Regions from separate parts of the Homo sapiens genome. Here region 2 is linked to region 1. A link means that fine-mapping ties the variant in region 1 to the expression of a gene that starts in the linked region. Tissue or cell type: fibroblasts. Region 1 holds a variant in brackets; the other region holds the start of a gene. All regions are shown on one strand. Distances are between the middles of the regions.

Region 1 (10,569 bases):
TGTAAATATTTATGTACCCAACACTGGAGCACCCAGATATATAAAGAAAATATTATTAAAGCTAAAGAGATAGGCCCCCAGTGCAGTAATACCTGGAGACATCAACACCTAGCTTTCAGCATTTGACAGATCATCCAGACAGAAAATCAACATCAGACTTAATCTGCACTACAGACCAAACAGACCCAATAGATATATACAGAACATTTCATCCAACAACTGAAGAATACACATTCTTTTCCTCAGCACATGGATCATTCGCAAGGATAGACCATATGTTAGGCCACAAAACAAGTTTCAAAACATCCAAAAAATTGAAATAATATAAAGTACCTTCTCTGACCACAGTGGAATAAAAAAACTATATAGCAATAACAAGGGGAATTTGTGAAACTATGCAAATACATGGAAATTAAACAACATGCTCCTGAATGACCAGTGAGTCAATGACGACACTAAGAAAAATTGAAATTTTATTGAAACAAATGATAACAGAAACACAACAGCAAAACCTATGGGGTACATCAAAAGCAGTACTAAGAGGAAGTTTATAGCTGTACATAAATCAAAAAAGTAGAAAAATTTCAAATAAACAATCTAACAATGCATCTTAAAGAACTAGAAAATCAAGATCAAACCAAATCCAAAGCTAGTGGAAGAAAAGAAATAATAAAGATTAGAACAGATATAAATTAAAATGAGGAAAACAATACAAAAGATTAATGAAACAAAAGTTTGTTTTTTTAAAAAGATAAATGAAGTTGACAAACCTTTAGCCAGACTAAGAAAAAAAGAGAAGACCCAAATAAATAAAATCAGAAATGAGAAAAGAGACATTACATTAATACTACAGAAATTCAAAGGATCATTAGAGGCTACTATGAGTAACTATACACCAATAAATTGGAAAACCTAGAAGAAATGAATAAATTCCTAGACACAAAACCTACCAAGATTGAACCGTGAAGAAATGGGATCAAAGCCAAAATAACAAAAAAAACAAGTAATGGGATCAAAGCCAAAATAAAGTCTCCCAGAAAAGAAAAGCCAACAAAAACCTGATGGCTTCACTGTTGAATGTTACCAAACATTTAAAAAAGAATGAATACCAATCCTACTCAAACTATTCCAAAAAACAGAGAAGGAGGGAATACTTTCAAACTCATTTTACAAGGCCAGTATTACCCTGATACCAAAACCAGACAAAGACACATCAAAAAAAAAAAGAAAACTACAAGCAGTGATGCAAAAATCCTCAACAAAATACTAACAAAATGAATTCCACAATACATTAAAAAGATAATTTATCATGACCAAGTGAGATGTATCCCAGGGATGGAAGGATGGTTCAACATATGCAAATCAATCAGTGTGACACATTATATCAACAAAATGAAGAACAAAAACCATTTGATTATTTCAACTGATGCTGAAAAAGCATCTGATAAAATTCAACATCCCTTCAAGATAAAAAACTGCACATAGAAGGAACATAGTTCCACAATAAAAGCCATATATGATAGACCAACCAGCTAGTATCATACTGAAATGGAGAAAAACTGAAAGCCTTTCCTCTAGGATCTGGAACACAACAAGGATGCCCACTTTCACCACTGTTATTCACCATAGTACTCGAAGTCCTAGCTAGGGCAATCAGACAAGAGAAAGAATAAAGGCATTCAAATTGGAAAGGAAGAAGTCAAATGATCCTTGTTTGCAGAAAACATGATCTTATATTTGGAAAAACTTAAAGACTCCACCAAAAAACTATTAAAGCCAATAAACAAATTCACTAAAGTTGTAGGATATAAAATCAACATACAAAAATCAGTAGCATGTCTATAGGGCAACAGAGAACAATCTGAAAAAGAAATCAAGGAAATAATCCCATTTACAATAGCTACAAATAAAATTAAATATCTACAAACTAACCAAAGAAGTGAAAAATTTCTACAATGAAAACTATAAAACACTGATGAAAGAAATTGAAGAGGACACAAAAAACATGGAAAGATGTTCCATATTCACAGATCAGAAGAATAAATATTGTTAAAATGTCCATACTACTCAAAGTAATCTATACTTTGTAGAGATTCAATGCAATCCCTACAAAATACCAATGATGTTCTTCACAGCAATAGAAAAAAAACTACCCTAAAATTTATGTGGAACCACAAAAGATGCAGAATAGCCAAAGCTACCTTGAGCAAAAGGAACAAGGCTGGATGAATCACATTACCTGACTTTCAAATTATACTGCAGAGCTATAGTCATTAAAACAGTATGGTAATGGCATATAAACAAAAATACAGACCAATGGAATGGGATGGAGAATCCGGAAACAAATCCATACATTTATGTTGAACTCATTTTCAATAAAGGTGCCAAGAGCATACATTGGGGAAAGGATAGCCTCTTCAATAAATGGTGCTGAGAAAACTGTATATCCCTATGCAGAAGAATGAAACTAGACCCTATCTCTCACCATATACAAAAACCAAATCAAAATGGATTAAACACTTAAATCTAAGACCTCAAACTATGAAACTACTATAAGAAAACACGAGGGAAACTCTCTAGGACATTGAACTGGGCAAAGGTTTCTTGAGTAACATCCCACAGACACGAACCACTAAAGCAAAAATGGACAAATGGAATCATATCAAGTTAAAGACTTCTGCACAGCAATGAAACAACAAAATGAAGAGACAACTCACAGAATGGGATAAAATATTTTTACACTACCCATGTGACAAGAGATTAATAACCAGAATATAAAAGGGGCTCAAACAACTGTAGGGAAAAAAATCTAATAATCCTGTTAAAAATGGGCAAAAGATCTAAATAGACATTTCTCAAAAGACGACATACAAATGTCAGACAGGCATATGAAAATGTGCTCAACATCATTGATCATCAGGGAAATGCAAATCAAAACTACAATGAGTTATCACCTCACCCTGGTTAAAATGGCTTTTATCCAAAAGACAGGCAATAAAAACTGCTGATAAGAATGTGGAAAAAAAGGGAATGCCTGTACACTGTTGGTGGGAATGTAATGCAAATTACTACACTATGAAGAACAGTTTGGAGATTCCTCAAAAAACTAAAAATAGAGCTACCATACTATCCAGCATTCCAACTGCTGGATATGTACCCAAAAGAAAGGAAATCAGTATACTGAGGAGCTATCTGCACTCCTACATTTATTGCAGCACTAGTCACAATAGTCAAAATTTGGAAACAACCTAATCCTCAATAGATGAATAAAGAAAATGTGGTAAATATACACGATAGAGTACTATTTAGTCATTAAAAAAAGAGTAAGATCCTGGGCTGGGCGCAGTGGCTCACGCCCATAATCCTAGCACTTTGGGAGGCTAAGGCAGGCGGATCACGAGGTCAGGAGTTCAAGACCAGCCTGGCCAATATGGTGAAACCCCATCTCTACTAAAAATACAAAAATTAGCCAGGTTTGGTGATGGGTGCCTGTAATCCCAGCTACTCGGGAAGCTGAGGCTGGAGAACTGCTTGACCCTGGGAGGCGGAGGTTGCAGTGAGCCAAGATTATACCACTGCACTCCAGCCTGGGTGACAGAGCAAGACTCCATCTCAAAAAAAAAAAAAGGATAAGATCCTGTCATTTGCAACAACAGGGATGGAACTGGAGGTCATTATGTTAAACAAAATAAACTAGGCACAGAAAGATAAACTTCACATGTTCTTATTTATTTCTTGAACTAAAAATTAAAACAATTGACCTCATGGAGATAGAAAGTAGAGGGATGGTTACCAGAGGCTGGGAAGGGTAGTGGGAGAGTGGTAGGGGGATGCGAGGATAGTTAATGGGTCCAATAAAAATAGAAAGAATGAATAAGATCTAGTATTTTATAACATAACTTTAGGATACCTAAAGAATGAATAAAATCTAGTATGTGATAGCATAACTTTAGGACACCTAAAGCCAATAATAATTGTACATTTTTAAAATAACTAAAACTGTATAATTGGATTGCTTGTAACACAAGGGATAAATGCCTGAGGTGATGGATACCTCATTTTACATGATGTGATTATTATACATTGTATGCCTGTATCAAAACATCTCATGAGATGTATTTTCCCATTAAAAATTCCTCATTAAAAAATGTCATATATCCCATAAATGTATGTATATATATTTACGTAAATATATGTATATATATATTCAGTGTAATTCTGAAACATTTTAATTATGAAGATTTATCATGGTCATGACATTGCTTTAATATACTGGTTTCATATAATTTATTTAATTTGGAATTCCTAATAAAGAACCAAACTTCTCATTACTGTATGTGCATAGAAAAATGTAATCTGCTTTACCAAAATTCCCTTTACAATATGATGAAGAATAAAAGTGGGATATGCCTTTATGGTAACACCCTCCTCAATCCCCAAATAGCCAGGAAAGCACAACGCAGCATGGTCTCTGGAAAACAGCCGGGACCGCGGCCCAGAACTCAGGGGAGGGAGCTGACAGGTGTGCGCGCTCCAGAGTCCACTCACTTCCAGACATTCAGCCAGGAGAAAGCCTTCAGAGATCATCTAGTCCAACTATCTCACCTACAGCTGGGGAAACTGAACCCAAGGGCAGAAACGGCTTACCAAGTCGACCTAAGTTATTGACCAGGAATAAACTTACCAGACCCTAGGAAATTAGAAGCAACAAGCTAGTGGCAGAGGTGGGGTGGGCTGTGGCTTTTATACTTATGGTAGTGACAAATGGCAGCTGACCACGGAAGACAAGGCAGACAAATGAAAAGCGTATTACAGAATAATAATGAAAGCTTATTAAACACAAAAATGAAAGAGCTTATCCGAGTCACTATGAAAAAGACTCAATAAATTTGTTATTCTCCATTTAAAAAAAAAAAAGTATGTGACATATCTTAGAATAGTTTCCATCAAGAATGCTAAGATCTGCACAGAGACTGCATTCAAAGGGGTCAGCTCCAGGTATCCGGAAGGTTAATTTCTGTGGAATGCCTTCCTGCCCAGCACAGGCTTGTTTTTTCAAGGACAAAGTTTGTTTTTGATATGTGCACACATTTCATAGACAATAAAGCTAATATTCTGATTTTTGAGGCCTAAAATAACTTGTCTGCAGATGACAACTTATCTAAATGACCTGAAATAAAAGTGACTGAAAATAAGCCCTCGGGAATGTACAGTCCTTAAGCATCACGAACTGCCACTCCCAAGGCCACGCATGTATCAACAACGCCTTATCAATCCCAATGATGTTATGGGGAGTCCAGAGACAGGCAGACAACGTGGATAAGAATTTATTACTCCAGCATGACGTAACAAGAATGTTAGCTTTACTGAGCTCCATGCCAAGAGCAGAAGTCTTCCCTTCCCGCCCCTGTCCTCCCCTCCCCTATAGTTCACCCTGTCCTCCTAGCCGCCTAACAAGGGTGAGGTGATTCTGTGATAAAACTCCTCTTTGGGTTCTAGTCCTTGTATTTATTCTTTATCATGCTTCTGGTGGCACCACTCCCCAGGGCATCCCTTCCCCCATCACCACTACAAGTAATAGGACTCCCGAGTCCAAGTGATCTCATCCCTGTGTCCAGGCACCTCCAGGAGAGCAGGCCTCGCTATGCACATGTGCCTGCTCAGGATAGTTTCTATTCCATGATTCACCCACCA[A/G]GTATCCTCCCTAGGGACGCGGGTTCATGCCTCGGCCTTAACATTCTGTGCTATCATTTTAAGACTTTTACATGATTTAGAGGAAAGAACAGGAGCTTTGGAGCCAGAAAATCCTGAGTTGAATCCCAGCACCAGCATCCAAATTGAGCTCTGTGTCTGGGAATAAGTTATTTCTCCTTCCTGAGCCTTGGTGCCATTAAGTGTAAAAGGAGATGGCTGTGCAGAGTTAAGGAGAGGCTACATATAAAGTGCCTGGCACACAGTAGGTGCTCTGCGGATGCTCCTTTCCTTTCCCTCCCCCACTCCCTCTTCCTCCACTCAGAACTGTTGGCTCTGGCTTCTTTCTCTCCGGAATGTTTTCTCCCATCTCTTCTCAGTGAGCCTCCTCATATGCTTCCTTTTAGCAAGAGCTTTTACACCTGAATCATGGTGTTTAAAAACCTATATCGAGAAATGTGATTATAGGACATTGCCAAACTGTGCTTCTTGAAATAGAAATAACGAGACTGCAAAGCGCATCTAAGCTAGAGAGGGTTGGGTGAGACTGAGGGAGCAGAGAAGACGCTCTGGACACCCCCCGCCTCCCTTTTCCCCTTCCCCAGTGCCACCAGATTTAGCAAATGAAAATGTAAGACACCCAGTTAAATTTTCATTTCAGATAAATATCAAATACATTTCTAGTGTGTCCCAACAATTGCAGTTGAGAAGGAAAATGGGACTCTAGCAAAGATAAGCTGTAGAGAAAGGAAAATAAAGATCATGACTGCCAGAGACAGAGGCAGCTGTCCCTTCTACCTGGTGCTACCAGAGAGAACTTCAAATCATCTGACCAAAAGGGAACCCCTGGTGGAGTCACAGCTTTGTGTGGTCTTGGAGTCCTAGAAAGTGCCCGTAGGCAGTAAACGCACAGCCATGGTCCTTCAGTTCCAGTAAGCATGGGCAGTTACTGAAGAGGGGCTTGGGACTTGAAGACGGCAGCTGCCCAGGCACCCTCAATGTCTGTACAAAATCCACCCACCTAATGCTATGTGAGTTTTATCGTATTTTTTATTAATTTTTAAACATAATTTTGTGGAATGAGCACTTATTTAATATTCCATATAATCTTTAAAATGTTGCAAAAGATGAAATAAGCCAGCCATACTTAAATACAAGTGAATTTTCTCTTAATTTATTTGGATTTGAATTTTTGCTTTAAAAGACTAAAGGGCAACAAAATTACACAGGAAAATGCACATGTTACTGTACAAACTGAAATATCATCCCCGCTGAATTACTGCAATAACTTCTCAACTGAACTCCCTGCTGCTGCCCATCCAGTCTCTTAACTCAGCAGCCAGAATGATCCTTCTAAAAAATACATCAGATTACGCCCCTTCCCTGCCCAAAACCCTCCACTGGCTCTCAGTAAGTGTGAGCCTTTCCAGTGGCCTTCAAGGTCCTGTGGGACTTGGCGCCCCACCCCTTTCAGCCCCTCCGACTCTCCTTTCCTGCCCTCCCCTTGCTCACTGGGCACAGGCCACTCTGGCCACTGCCCACAGCGTCCTGCCCAGATGCCCCTGTGCCTTCCCTGCCCTCCTGCAGAGCTTTGCCCTAATGCCAGCTTCTCCATAACACCTTCTCTGGCCACACTTTCTAAGTTCGTAGCCCCCATTCCTAGCACATCCTAGCCCCTCTCACTGCTGCCGATTCCCATCAACCTACTGCACATTTTACTTTAGTTGTACGTTTGGTATCTCTCCTCACTAGAATGCAAGGCAGACATTTGGGCATTTTGCTCTCTGCAGCCTCCCCAGAATGTAGAACAGTACATGGCACATAGGACGCACTCAATACAATTATTTTTTGAATGTTGAATAAATATGAGGTAAGAATAATGATGAGCTATAGTGTGGTAAGATGTATTTACCGAAAGCCAAACAATGAATAAATGTGGGGTTTTCTTCAAGACTTCAAAGACTGAAAAGAGCTCTTATTTTTGAACTTTTTTACGCGCCTCTCACTTGCTTTCTTCTTTTTTTCATCAGAAAATTATAGAGCCAGAGGGGGGTCATGACTTCCTGGCTTCTAAAGTTAATATTCAAAAATGCAGGACAGAGCATTTTTACCGTTCGCATTTTATAAATCATGTGATTGAAGGAAGTACATATTTGCCTGAAGTAACATCCTTTGAAAGTGCTTCCCAAGTCTCCCCCCACTCAGGCTAAGAACAGTCAAGCAATTCCAGACTAAAGAATGTGCTCCTCATGAAATTTCAACACAAGCGCATTCAATACATGTTTATTGATCGGCAGAGATCAAATCTGTCGCCCTTTTAACAAAGGTCCAACTGAATGACCTTTAAATGTGAGATGTGTCAAAATCCAAAATGCCAAACAAGTCTCCTTACCTCTCGGCAGAGTCTCTGATGAGCTGCTGCAAATCCACCTCCTGCTTCCTCAGGGTTCCAAATGAAGACTGGCTCTCTACGCGGCTGCTGCCCCCCAGGTTCAGCTTGACCTTCCCCAGTGCAGTCTCCAGGGTTCCACTCACGTGGTTTGCAAACTTGCCCTCGTATTTCACAAAGTCCGACTCCACGACCACTGGAATGGAGGAGACGAGCAGAGGAAGCCGATGATGATAAGGCCACCAAGATGTCTTGGGTCATTTAGCTTTCCAAGCCTGTGCAGAGCCCCGGAAAGCAGAAGGCTGGCACTCAGATGGAAAGCCGGCAGCCATGCTGTGTGTGTGGGCAAGAAAACAGGGCAGCACGTGTGTGTGTGTGTGTGTGTGTGTGTGTGGACCGCGGGCACACAGTGGACCAGTGCAGCACGTGTGTGTGTGTGTGTGTGTGTGTGTGTGTGTGTGTGTGTGTGTGTGTGTGGACCACGGGCACACAGTGGACCAGTGACCAGGGCTCCACTAGAAGCTTTTCTCTTTCATTGGTTTTCAATCCCAATACGTATAGAAAGGTGCACAGAAAGGACTAATGAATAAAGTTAGCGCCTGTTTAACCACTATCCAGGTGGATCAATAGACCATTTTAAATGTGTACTTTTCCAGGGTGAAGACTGAAAGGGACTAGACAAAGAAGACAACTAAACAGAGAGAGAACAGCAGCCCCTATTCTGGATGCACCGCGAGAGGACAGCCTTCCTTGGCCACCTAGGCCTGTCTGGGGGCATCTTGTCTACCCACCCACCAGTCTTGGAAAACAATCCCCTGGCCCTTATTACCATCTCCAGTCAAATTATTCCCTTCCCATATTTATGATTCTCTCTCTGACCTCTACCCAGTCATTCAATTCCTCATCATATAATTCCTTATCTCTGACTTCCTGATAAGGTCAGTGGACATGCCCTTTTTAAAATGATAAATGTCTGATCTCATATCTGAACTGTCAGCCTTCTCACATCTCCAGGTTTCTACTATTCTCTTTTGTAATCCAAACAAAAACCACCCTAAAAATAGTCTCTGTGTGGTGGCTCACATTTGTAATCCCAGCAATTTAGGAGGCTGAGGCAGGAGGATCCCTTGAGGTCAGAAGTTCAAGACCAACCTGGGCAACACCAGCTACCCTAGAGGCTGAGGTGAGAGGATCACCTGAACCCAGGAGTATAAGGTTACAAGTGAGCAATGATCATGCCACTGCACGCCAGCCTGGGTGACAGAGCAACACCTTATCTCTAAGAAAATATAAAAATAATAACAAATAAAAATAATGATTTTAAAAATAGTCTCTATCATCACCATTTGGTAAGGAGACATTAAGAGTCCACTAGGAACCTCACACTTGGCCTTTTCCATTGTCCTGACCCAAGGCTCTCCTGGGCTCCCGGCTGCCCTTCACAGGGGATTCAAACCCACCGGCAGTCTGAAAGGCTTCTTTCCATCCACTCACTGCCCCAACACCCATACTTCACCTACACTTCTTCCACTGCAATCAAGAAAACCCACTCCTCAACCAGGGTTAATCAGAAGTAATCACCATTCAATCACCTTTGAAATTTATAAAACAGAGAATCATCTCCTGTACCACCAGCCCAAAAATAAGAATGGTGTAAAAATTTATCCTATTCATGGACTTTTTTTGTTAATATCTCATGGAAAACAAACATTTTGGGCAATGCCTTGGGAAGAAGGGCAGAGCAGAGATAAAGAGGTTAGGATTCTATCCCTACTCTAATATTACTAACCGGGAGAATTTGGGTAACATTCATTTCCCTGAACCTCAGACTTTCATGAGCAATTTGGAGATAATTAATGATAGCTACCTGACGGGTTCTGCTGCGGGTTTATATATGGAAAGCATGTAAGGTAGAGTCTCACACATAGCAAAGGCTCAATCTCTCCACTGTGTTTAGGCCACAGAAATATCATTTTCTAATAAACAGGACAGTCCTAGGTTCTACAAAGTACAGCAAAGACAGAAATTTTATCTTCAGGACACAGGTCTGGTCTTAGGCTTATTACCACTCCTGGAAACCCTGTCCCCAAGACTTGATCCACAGCAGGAAGGAACAGTCAAGATTTGTCTGTGTGTTCTGAAAAGCCACTCTAGACACACCTCCGAAGAAGATGTCATTTGTGCACACTTCTGCATCAAGCTGTCAACTGCTGTTGGTGGAAGGGAAGAAATGAGGGGACCAACAGGCCATCACTTGGACTGCCAACACCAGTCACCACCCTACACCCTTCACAGCCCTGGGCAACACATATGCCAGTGAGGCTGCGAGTGGGAAAAAATAACAAAGGTGAAGCATCCTGACTCTACCCAGTAGACAAAGTAGAAGACGCTTCTCGTCACCGCCCTAACACCAACAGGACACAGAATCCAGGATGAGCTCTGACCCCAGATGAGCATGCTCGGGGATTCTTCACCTGCAGTGACCGCCA
Region 2 (11,184 bases), 170 kb before region 1:
CATATATATAATGGGAGAGGTAGAATTTAGAGGCCGATTTTAAATGAGTATCTAAAAGGGTTAATTACATATAGATGCTGGCTCCTGGTGAGATAAAGTCAAGCTCAATTAAGGTCACTGCTTGAAATCTGATTGTCTTTCTAAGAGCTTTTCATCTGTAACTTGCATATTCTGGAACAAGTGTTCAATTGTAATTAGCAACATTTTTCACTTAATTTTATTTAATTTTAGAAGTCTACCAACTAACAGGTTTATCTGTTTCAATAAATGAGCAGCTACTATGTGCAGTACTATGCCAAGTGCTACAGGCATTCCTGTACACATCACCCTGGATTTTACCTGCAAGAAAGAAGGGGATGGGGCTGAGTGGCGGTAAAAAGAATGCAAAGATAAATATTTGAAAACATAAATGATGCTTTTATGAAGCAGAATAGGAAAGGAGCCATAAGATGCAATTAAAGTGCTACAGGAGTTCAAAGGAGAGCAATTACACTAGTCCCTTCTTATCCAAGAGGGCATCCATTCCAAGCCCCCCAGTGAATACCTGAAACCATGGATAGTACTGCACTGTACATATTTTATATATATATATATATATATATATATATGTACTATGGTTTGTAGACATACATACCTATGATAAAGTTTTTAATTTATACATTAGGCACGTTAAGAGATTAACAATAACTAATAATAAAATAGAACAATTATAACAATATACCTTCATAAAAGTTACGTGAACATAGTGTCTCTCTTTCTCAAAATATCTTATCATACTGTACTGAGGAAAACTGAAACCTTGGAAAGTGAAACCATGAATAAGGGGGGACTGGGGGACTACTGTACCTCTGTTTGAGGTGAGGCAGAAAGGGTTTCATGGAAAAGGAGGGTGTGAGATGAGCACACATGCTTGGATTTTGGCCAGCAGAGATGGCAGAAGGCAAAAACAGGGGTAGAAACATAAAGATACAAGATATGACTAACTAGAATATCCAAACAGGGAAGCTTTGACTGTCATTGTGAATGACCTTGTAAATGGGGTCCCGTAGGCAGTAAGGAGACAGGGATAAAATGACTGGCACCTGGCAGTCAGGGCAAGGAGGCCCTGAGGCAGGGAGATGAGTTAGGAGACTCTGTAGGACTAAAGCAAATAAACAAGAGAATCCATTCCTATAATTTTGAGAAAGTGGGCTGCAAGGGATTTGAGTATGTGTTTGTTCAGGAGATGGTAAAAGGAGGTAAAGGAAAGGAAGGTGCCAGAAAAACCAGCAGGAGCAACCCCGTGAATAGCTTATCTAGATGGAAATTTTCAACAGCGAGTTGAAAATATGCCTCAAGGGAGAATAGATACAGATGTGGAAGCATTGGTGCTAGAGTCCTAAGGATCCCTGGGATTCTCAAGATAAACAGTACTATCTGCTCTTTTTAAGTTTCTCCTCAAAAATTTATTTCATTCTTAGTGGAACATTTTTCTTTAGGAAGTAGGAGGAGATAACACAGCAAAGTAAGGGTCAGAGATGGAACAGTCAGAGAGGTCGAAAGAGCTCCCAGGTGGTATGGTATCAGAGAAGTTAAAGGAAAAGAGAGGTTTAGAGAGTGAGAGTACGAGAGATTAACCTCCTCAAACACTGCAGAGAAGTTCAATGGCATGAACACTAAGCAAAGACCTTCCCCACTAATTCTGTCATATACTATTAAGACACCTGGCATAGCACTTATTATGTAATATTTTGCTTATTATTCTTCGCCATTAGGTAGGGACTACTTGATATTGTTAATTTTTTTATTTTCATTATGCTTCACTAGTAAATGAGTGACTGAATGGATGAACACATGAATGAAAATGTTAATTGTGATGGAAATAGTAGTTTCAGCAGAGAAGTGGGTGTGGAAGCCCAATTCCAATGCCTAAAATAAACAAATAATGGTAAGAAAAGTCAAGGAGATATGCTGAGATATATAGTTTTCTTTTTTAAGGAAAAACCAAACAACCCCAAAACTCAAGTTCTTATAATGTTTGGCTTTAATTGTGATGATTAAAAAAAAAAAAAGAACTGCCATCGTATCAGGAAATGTTTTTTCAGACAGCTAGTTTAGAGGAGAAAGTTCTGCTAAGACATTTCTGTTTGAGACAGTTGACCCAGTGGGACTTTTGGAAAGATTTAGATTATAAGAAAAGCCTCTGACAAATATCTATGAAAGCAAGATTAAAACAATAATGTACACAATCAACTGAGGTCCAGCGGTTTGTAAACCAGTGCCAGTCGGGATGCTCAGAGCTGGGAACGGTGATCTTCAGGCAGCCAGGTGAGACTAATCTGGAGAAGCTTTAGGAAGGAGATAAATTTAAGCTGTTTTGAAAGGGGACTATTCTAGTCAATTGGCAAAGAGTCTTAAAGCACAGGATTAGGAATTTTAATTTGATTACTCGAGGTAATTTGGAGCTACCCCACTGTTGTGAAGATTTGGTATAAATGTTGTTTGGAAGATGATTCATTTCCATAGTTCTTAACTCTGGCTGCGTATTAGAGTTATCTGGAGAGCTCTGAAAAAATCCTGGCACCCAGGCTGTGCTCCAGAGCAATTAAGTCTGGGATGGCATCAAAGCATCAGTGCTTTGTTTTGTTTCTTAAAGTTCTCTGGGTGATTTCAATAAAGAGCCAAAAATTAAGAAGCACTGCTCTGAGTATAGGATAAATTGCAAGGAAGCAAGAGAGAGGCTAGAATTAGAAAGGTTAGCAAGGAGGCTGGAAATTGGAATCTGACCTAGCTTTGTGAGCAGAGATAAAAGGAGTGAAGCTAAATAAAGTATTCTGAAGGAAAACTTGGTTGGACTTTGTGATGCATGCCAGTTGCATTTTTAAATAAAGCTATCCTCCAGGAGTGTCACTGCTTTTACTATGATGGATTAGTTGAAAAACAAGTACACAGGATTTGCTTTTGCTAAAATTCGGGGCTATTAGCAAAATTCTCAATTTCTGTAGGAGCAAAGCAGGTCAGAAGAGAAAAGAAAATGTAATCACATTAAAAGTGTATGTTGTTTACATTTGAAGGAGGAAACAAAATTGAGTGATGGATGCTCCTGAATTAAGAATCAAAATTCAAATTTTAAATTGAATTACCGTTGGGAGATACTGGGCTGTGGTAAAATTATGATCCCTTTAGAGTAACCTTGAAGGAAATGAAAAGTCAGACTATTAAGGACACTGAAGAGAAAGATCCACCATCATTCTCAATCATATCATTCCCCTTTCTTGGAATGAAGAATTTGTAACCGGTATGGGAAATGGATGGTGGTGTCTCAGTATGATGACCTCTCAGAAAGCTGAGTTGGGAACCAATGATGGGAGTTCCAATGTTTAACTGAGAACACTTTAAATTTATCCTGGCATGTCCCACCTTTAAAGTTTAGAGGAAGGGCAGAATGTTATAAAATGGGAATATCATTTATAAAAGGAAATAGTGTTTCCTTTTATAACTGTATATGAGTATTTGATACAATACTCATCTGACACTGAGAGAGGAACTTCACCGGCAAGAGCTTTCTGAAGGGGAGCAATCAAAGACAGTTATTGGAGCAAAATCATTTTTCTGACTCTAAGAATGAAGCTGAGTCTTACGGCAGTGATAAGCCTCCATCTGATAGCTGCTGTCATTACTTAGAGCACAGACTTGGAACTGCAAATGAAAGATAATTGTTCCTGTATTCCTGCTCCCAAATGCTGGGTCTCTGGTAGATGCAGAGATAAAGCAGTTGGCCAGGAGTGGTGCCAGCTTTAAGTCAGGTAGGTCTGCATGTAATTTGAGGGGCAGAGCCTACCCCAAACCCTCCCTCCCTAAAACTTCCTCAGTTAACATCATTCTACTTGCAGGGAGCAGGGGTAGAGTAGGTTAGGACATTGTTTCCAGAAGACCCTTGAGGAAATAAAAGTGCACTATTAAGGATCACTAACATATCTGGAAATGACATTCATACCCTACCTCCCACCCCAACCCCAGAGAAGCTCAGGGCAAGTAACTAAGTGGCTGGGTCCAAGGGGATGTGTTAAGGTTAAGAGTCAGAAGGGAAAAGAGTTCACAAGCCTGGGTAGGGTACAGCAGGGAGGACCCATGGGTGTCCTGTGAGAAGCAAGTGGGCCTGGGGCAGCAAGAAGGACCTGAAAGGTCTTGCTGACACCCCGAGAAGACAAACCCCATCCTTCCGCTTTGTCTCTGCCTTGGGCTCCGAGCCCACTCCACTTCATTTCATCCAGCCATCCTGACTACAGGGGGCCCAAAGCTACTCTGTGCCCTGGGCACGTTTGAGTCTCCTTAAATGCTTCCAATTACCTTTGCCTGGGTTTGTGGTTCCAGGAAAGAAGGTTCTAAATTAACACTGTACAAGGCCCCCCTGCATGTTGGTTTGCAAAATTAATGATCCTAATGGAAAAGTAAATTAATCTTTGATGCTTGGTTGAGGATAAACACAAAAATCACTGTTTTGGACACTGGACCTTCTTAATACATCTCATCAATAGTATTTTCTCTCTCCCTTCCATGCCTGCCACATTCACAAAGAGAGGAGACAATACAACTTATAACTTCATCTCTGAATCCAAAGGGCCATGATGCACGCATTTATTCTGCAAACACTTATTAATGGTCTGGTTTGTGCAAGGTGCCCAAGAGAAGCCAGGAAAGGCTGCACAGAGGAGGCCACCTCATAACACTCCTCACACGTAAAGTTTGACTTGCACTTTCTACGTTCATGGTTTGAAAAGATTGCAGTAAGCATTTTGTAAAATGTAAATTACATTCTTCAATTTTAGGAAGAACACAATAGTTTTTCCAAAAGCCGCCTGTCACAGGTCTGAGGGTTCACAGAGCTCTTTTAAGGGGATCGGAAGTTCTCTGGCTGCCTTGCTATGTTTTTCTAGCCAGAAGTCTCTGCTGCAGTGCATTGCTCAGTTCCTTTCAACTGAAAAATTAAATCTGCACTTCTGTCAAAATGTGTCATCTACACATCCGGACACTCATCACAGTTCACCAAGCTCTACGCAGAGTCCAGGCTGAAAGGATGGCATGCCCTCCCCAACCCCACCCTTTTGAGGTCTGGGAAGCCCAGGTGCTGGGGAGGAGCTGAACAACTGTGTCCAGGGAGTGTCTGGCAAAGCCGACCCAGGGAGTTCCACGGGAGCCTCGGTGCTATGAAAAGAGCCAGTGTCCATGCATTTCCTCGGGTGTGAATCACACTGCCCGGTCGGGCCTTTGGGAAAAAATTAATGAAGGACACAGTCAGCGCCGTAGAACCTGCCAAATACACATCAGATCCAGTGGAGTCTGTGAAGGGGGAGGGGGAGATTTTTCCAGAGGCTTTTCTTCTCGTTCCATTTCTCTTTTGTGCCCCACGACTGGGTTCTTGAATGTAAAACTCTCAGAAAGGTCAGGGCGGAGCCTGTTTTATGCCCCGAGGAGTATCTTGCCCACCCGTAAATGCTGACAGACAGCTGCGACTTCGGCCCAGGAGACCCGGCGGGGACTGGGTCCGACCAGCCCTCTCTCGCGGGCGCAGGTCCGGGACCCCTGAAGCGAGCCGGCCGGGCGCAGAGCGCAGTCAGTCTGGGCGCTCAGAAGCTGGGAGGGGGCTCCACCTGGGCGCCCAGCCGCGGCGGGAGGGGCGGGGCCCGGCTTTCCGGAGGCGGTGGCACCTCCTCGCGCCCGAGCGCGCGCTCCCCGACGTCCGGCGCACGCGCGAGGCCGGCTGGGAGCGCGCCCAAGCGGCGGCGGCGGCGGCGGCTGGAGGAGGAGGAGGAGGAGGAGGAGGAGGAGGAGGGCGGCTGAGGCGCGGCTGGCTGCGCGCGCGGAGGCAGCGGCGGGGGCGACCGGAGCTGGGGCAGAGTGGGGAGCGAGGGAGGGGGAGGAGAGAGAGGGAGGCGGAGGGCAGTGAGAGACGCATTTCCAGTTCTCAACTACGAGCCACGAGTTTGCAGATGGGGCTGCTCGGCGGCGCCTGTGGCTGAGGGAGAGCAGCGGCGGCGGGGAGCGACCGGGAGCGGCGGCAGCGGCGGCGCGGAGGCGGCTGAGGTGCGAGCCGGTGAGTTAACTGGACCCCCACGCCGCTCGGGTAACGGTCGCGCCGCGCGCCGGGCCGGCCGGGGGCGCCCTGTTGCTCGGCGCGGCGCGCCACGCGGGGACCCTGGCCCGCCCCGCCCCCCTCGGCACCTGGGCTTCGGCGGGCGCGGGGAAGAGGGACCGGCAGGCGGCGGCGGCGGCGCCGCGGTCGGGGAGGCTGCTGGCCGCCCCCAGCCCGGCCCGCGCGGAAGGGGCGCTCGGCCGGGCTCCTGCCTCTCTGGCTGCGGGCGGCTGGGCGGGCCGGAGCTCGGCAACGTGTCTGGCCCATGCTGCTTGCCGCCGCTCCCCACGCGCTCCCCGGCGCGGCCCCGACTGGGGCTAGGGCCGCAGACGCGCGGGGCCCCTTCGGGCGCGGGGCTTGGGTGCCTACACCTCTGCGGCGGGAGTCGCGGTGGAGCCTGAATGGAGAGCCGGCCTGGGGGCGGCGTTGCTGTGACTGACACCTCCGGGGTCTGTCCCGAGAGGGGGTGATTCCGCCGGCTCCCGGTTCTCTCCCGAGCTCGGAGTTGGTAGGGGAGGAGGCTTTCTCCAACTACCGCCGCTACTTCCGAGGTACGAGACTCCAGTTGTTTGGCCAAAGTGGCTGTGGGCCGAGCACAGGCTGCCGCGGGGGCGTTCGCTGCTGAGATCGTGCTCGCGGATTCTCGGTACGTTTGTCTGAAACCAAATAGGTGCTGGGGCTTTTTTATTTTGGCTGGGTGGAGGGTCAGCAGGGGAGTCGATTGAGGTATCCGACCGTGTGGTGACAGGATGTGGATTGGTTGGTAGATGTTTTTTTGCAGAAGGACTTTTTAACACTTTACTGGGAGTTTATTCTCAATCCTACCAGTTTCTGGGATTGCAGCTCGAGATTACATTTGTTAAACTTCCATCAGTTGGGTGTGCATCTGTGTAGGGGGTGGGGGTGAAGCGAGGGAGAGAATTGAAGACTGCCGGGGAAGCTCAGAAAATTCTCCGCATTACTTATAAACAGCCGGGTAAGGTCAGGCTAGCCACGTTTTATTCTTTCCTACGCCTTTGGAGAGTGTTGGAATTTTACTTTGTGCTTCAAGTATATTACAAGTGGTCTTGTAGTGTAGCTGAGAACGTTTGGGGTGCGTTAAAATGCGTTTCAATTGGAGTATGATTTAGCAGCCATTTCTTCCCGTGAAATTTTGCAAATCATTTGTAAACTTATGTTGGTCGAATATACCAGGCGAAGTAACATTTTTAGTAATGCGGTATATAGTTTCCGTATATAGGTATAGCAACGGACCTCAAGTAATATTGCTTATTGTAGGCATCTACTGTGCAATGATAGGGTAGTGGGTAGTAGGCCTGATTATAGTTATGTCTTCTGAGGCCTTGTTAACAGTAAACAAAGAACTTTTGTGGGTTGTGTCATTTTGAGGTCATTTGTACCTTAAATCTATCATATATTTAAATAGGTGTTTAAATGCGTGTTTGCACGATGTGTTACTCTTTAAGGTCCATGTTTCCTTCATTCTGGACTACGGTTACATAATACACAAATGGTAACACTTTTAATTGCTCAATTTTGTCCTATGGAGACTGCACACCATCTTTATGAAAGAGGTGTGTATGTGTCCTTACTGATGCCACCGAATTCTTGACATCTGGAATGTCAAAATGAATTATTTTGCATTCTAGGTTAAATCAACACTGGAAAAATTAAGGTGTTTAAGCAAGTCTAGTAGCTCTATATAAGACAGAATCTTTTTTTTTCTTTAGGCCAACTGTTGGATTTTTAAAAATGAATCATATTTTTAAACATTTGAGGGAGCAGTTTGCTTCTGAGTCTCATTTTAGGCTGAAATTGTTCCAGAGCACTACATAGCCTGCTTCTCTCTTTCTCTCCCCACTCCCCCTCTTTTTAGCTTGAGATAACCAAGAAGACATAACTGTGACTCTATGTGTTATCTTTTTAAAAAGTTGTTTTAAAATTGAAGTTGCTTGTTTGAATATTTACTATCCCTTTACATGCTTTACTACTTAATAATGGATTAGCAGAATAAAACAGATATTTTAATTAAATGTCTTTCATATTTTTGACATCTGAGCTTTGTAAAAATGGAGTAGCATCATATTATTGCTGAGAGAGTTACAAATAATACAGGATTAGTGCTAGTCAAAGGCTAATTGTAAAAAAACAGCCAGAAAATAAAATTAAAAGAGGTAAGAGGACGCATTTATACTTTTGACATCACTCTAATATAAATTACCTATTGCTAGGTGACTTTTGAAAAAGAGTATCTTGTAAAATTCACATTAGGTATATAATAGTTAATAATTTTTCCTTCCAGAGTGATTCACTTGATGAGTGACTAGATTTTTTTTTTTTAAATCAGAACTCTACTTCAGGTAAGTATAGTTAACCATGTAAGTGATGTGCTGATGTTTATTTCAGGAAGAATGAACACTTACCCATTTGATAAATACTGAACTGTTTGGGAATATGTCAGTTATTCCTTAAAACTTAGGCGGAGAAAAATTATGCTAGTTTTGTTTTAACTGTAGGTTCTTTAGAAAAGTAGTCTTCACATTTATAAATATAAGAGCAGATAAGCACAAGAGATCTCTTTCCTGATATGGTGCTAGTATTGAATTAAAGATTTTATTTTTTTGTTGTAGGGACCAGTTTTGTTTAGTCTTCCTGTTCAGTCTCACAGAAGCTGCAATGATTTTCCTCCTTTTCTGTTACTTGTATCTGACCACTGGGGGGAGACTTTACAATTGGGCTTGACCATATTCCTTCTTTACATACATTGGCTGCTAATCCTGGGCACTTTGTCAAACTGCTGGGTAGTGTGCTGAGGAGGATGCACTCTGAAGCAAGTCTCAATCAAGGTGTTTAATGACTTTTCTTTCTTTAACTCACAGCATGCTTACAAAGTATCATTCTTTATAGACTGTGTTATTAACAGTCTACTGTTAAGTGGTCTAAGTATGCCTCTAACATAATGAAAGATAAGATTCCTGAATACATTATAGCTTTCAAAGATCCGACTTTACTTGCATTAATCTTAGAAGCAGTGTAGGTTTAATTGCTTGCTTAGAGTACACAGATATTAGTTGTCTGGAAGGATCTGGAAAGATCATCACTCTTCTGTGAAGTGTATCTATATCCAAACCCTTTAAACAAATTGGTCTCCTCTTATAAAAAGCTTTTGGAGGAGAAGATATTGAAGCATCCCATGTAGCTAATTTTAGTGTTCATTTCACCGCAGAGGGGAAGTTCTTCCTTTATCATAGTCATATAGATAAGATTAAAGCCCACAACTTTGTTAACCATTAAGCTGTGACCATTATTACCAGGTGTAATAAAGTCAAAAGCCTGGTTTCTACTTTTTCTTTTCTGACAGTATTTAACCTTGTTAATGTCCAATTCAATAATAATGAACTCAGTAAACAGAGGCTGCTACGTTTATAGTAGTTTAGAAAGAACTTAAGTTTTATGACCTTCCTTAATTATGATAGACTAATTCAAAGACCTTTCTATAATCTTTATCATAGTAAGTATATTCACAGAGTAATGAACAGAACAAAATTAGTTTCTATTTTTCCTTCATCCTAGGTTATTTTCCTTCTTTCCTTTAAGATGACTTTGCTTTCATCCGAAAATTCTTTTTTCCTTTTTTCCTTTTTTTTTTTTTTTAATATAGTGTACTAGAAGAGATACTTTCTGCTTAGGAATATATTCATCTCTGGCTAACTTTAGGATTGTGTTAAGTACTTGGGAATGGAAGTTTCTAAAAGCCTATCTGTCAGAGTTATCACTGATACAAGGCAAAATGAGAATTAAAGACAATATAATGAATATTTCATAAAGCTCAAGTTATTTTCAGATCCTTTCTACTGCTTGCTAGTTTTGTACATGATTTAATCCCTCCTTCACCAATTTACATCTTTTCCTCTTAAATCTATCATTTCTTTACCCTCTTCCTCCACTTTTTGCTATATTTCATCTACATTGCCCTTCATTTTGTTCCTCATCAATGCCATGGCTTGCTCCTAACTTAGGGCTTTTGCACTATGTTCACTCTGTTGGGAACTCTTCCTAAATCATTACATGAGTGACTACTTTTCATCATTTCATGTTGTAGTTCAAATATCATCTTTTCAGACAAGCATTGCTACCTAACCATCCTTCCAGAATGACACTAGCCTCATCCCCCTCAATCCCATTACCTTTTTTACTTAAAAATTTCTTCAAACCATTTATCAGTATCTGAAATTATGTTTTTATATTATTTTATAATCTCCATACTCACTAGAATATAAGCCCCGTGATATCAATGATCTTGTCTCTTTTTGTTTTTGTTTTTGAGATAGAATCTCACTCGGTCACCCCAGGCTGGAGTGCAGTGGTGTGTGTGATCACGGCTCACTGCAGCCTGGAACTCCTAGGCTCAAGTGATCCTCCCACCTCAGCCTCCTGGTAGCTAGGACTATAGGCAACAACTACCATGCCGAGCTAATTAAAAAAAAAAAATTCTGTAGAAATGGAGTCTTGCTGTGTGTGTTGCCCAGGCTGCTCTCAAACTCCTGATCTCAAGGGATTCTCTCGCCTCAGTGCCTCAAAGCACTGGGATCATAAGCATGAACCACCACACCCTGCTGATCTTGTCTCTTTTGATTAACACTATATTTCAAGGACTTAGACCTGTTCCTGGCACATAGCTGTCATTAAATAAATCATCCTTTTAAAAAATCTGAGGTCATGTTCTTTCTGAGGTTTCGGTGTTCAAATGCTCCTTTATAAAATGATAGTAGTATGGTAAACAGGCCTCTTTTGGCCATAAGTAATAGAAATCCATTCTAGTTGTTATAAAGGGAATTTATCGTTCAAATGCAGCCAATGTCCAGTGGAATGCAAGGACTGGGACTCCAGTGCCTGCAGGGCACATCATATCGTTTCTCTCTTCTTCTCTGTGCGTTTGCTTCATTCCTTCTCTTGCTGCAGAGGACCACTTCTAGTCCTCTTAGTGGAAAATATGGCCACCAGTAGCTTCTGAGTTTTCATGATACCAGCCTGGGAAACTGGAGAAAGGTTCATCTAGTTCTTCCCTGTTC

Direction of the effects. Positions count from the first base shown, and alleles are read on the strand shown. Sizes are in standard deviations (SD) of each study's normalised expression.
In carriers of allele G in region 1, the expression in fibroblasts of the gene that starts at base 5,932 in region 2 tends to be lower than with A alone (small effect, 0.22 SD a copy in GTEx).

What was found. PIP is the estimated chance that this variant, and not a neighbour inherited with it, causes the effect.
Region 2: it holds the start of PALS2, and the variant in region 1 is fine-mapped to the expression of PALS2 in fibroblasts (GTEx, PIP above 0.99).

What each region holds. Positions count from the first base shown.
Region 1 is chr7:24,736,479-24,747,047 of GRCh38, forward strand. It overlaps GSDME (gasdermin E), which reads right to left. Exons shown (of 10, transcript NM_001127453.2): 3 at 8,084-8,276. Among named protein-coding and RNA genes, the nearest start is that of GSDME, 16 kb to the right of the region's middle. RefSeq lists a silencer at 5,112-5,406. The variant A/G (reference allele first, on the strand shown) is at 5,695.
Region 2 is chr7:24,567,521-24,578,704 of GRCh38, forward strand. PALS2 (protein associated with LIN7 2, MAGUK p55 family member) reads left to right here and starts at 5,932. Exons shown (of 12, transcript NM_001303037.2): 1 at 5,932-6,073. RefSeq lists enhancers at 5,081-5,150, 5,171-5,270, 6,136-6,635, 6,581-6,630, 6,681-6,800 and 1 more and a silencer at 5,411-6,480.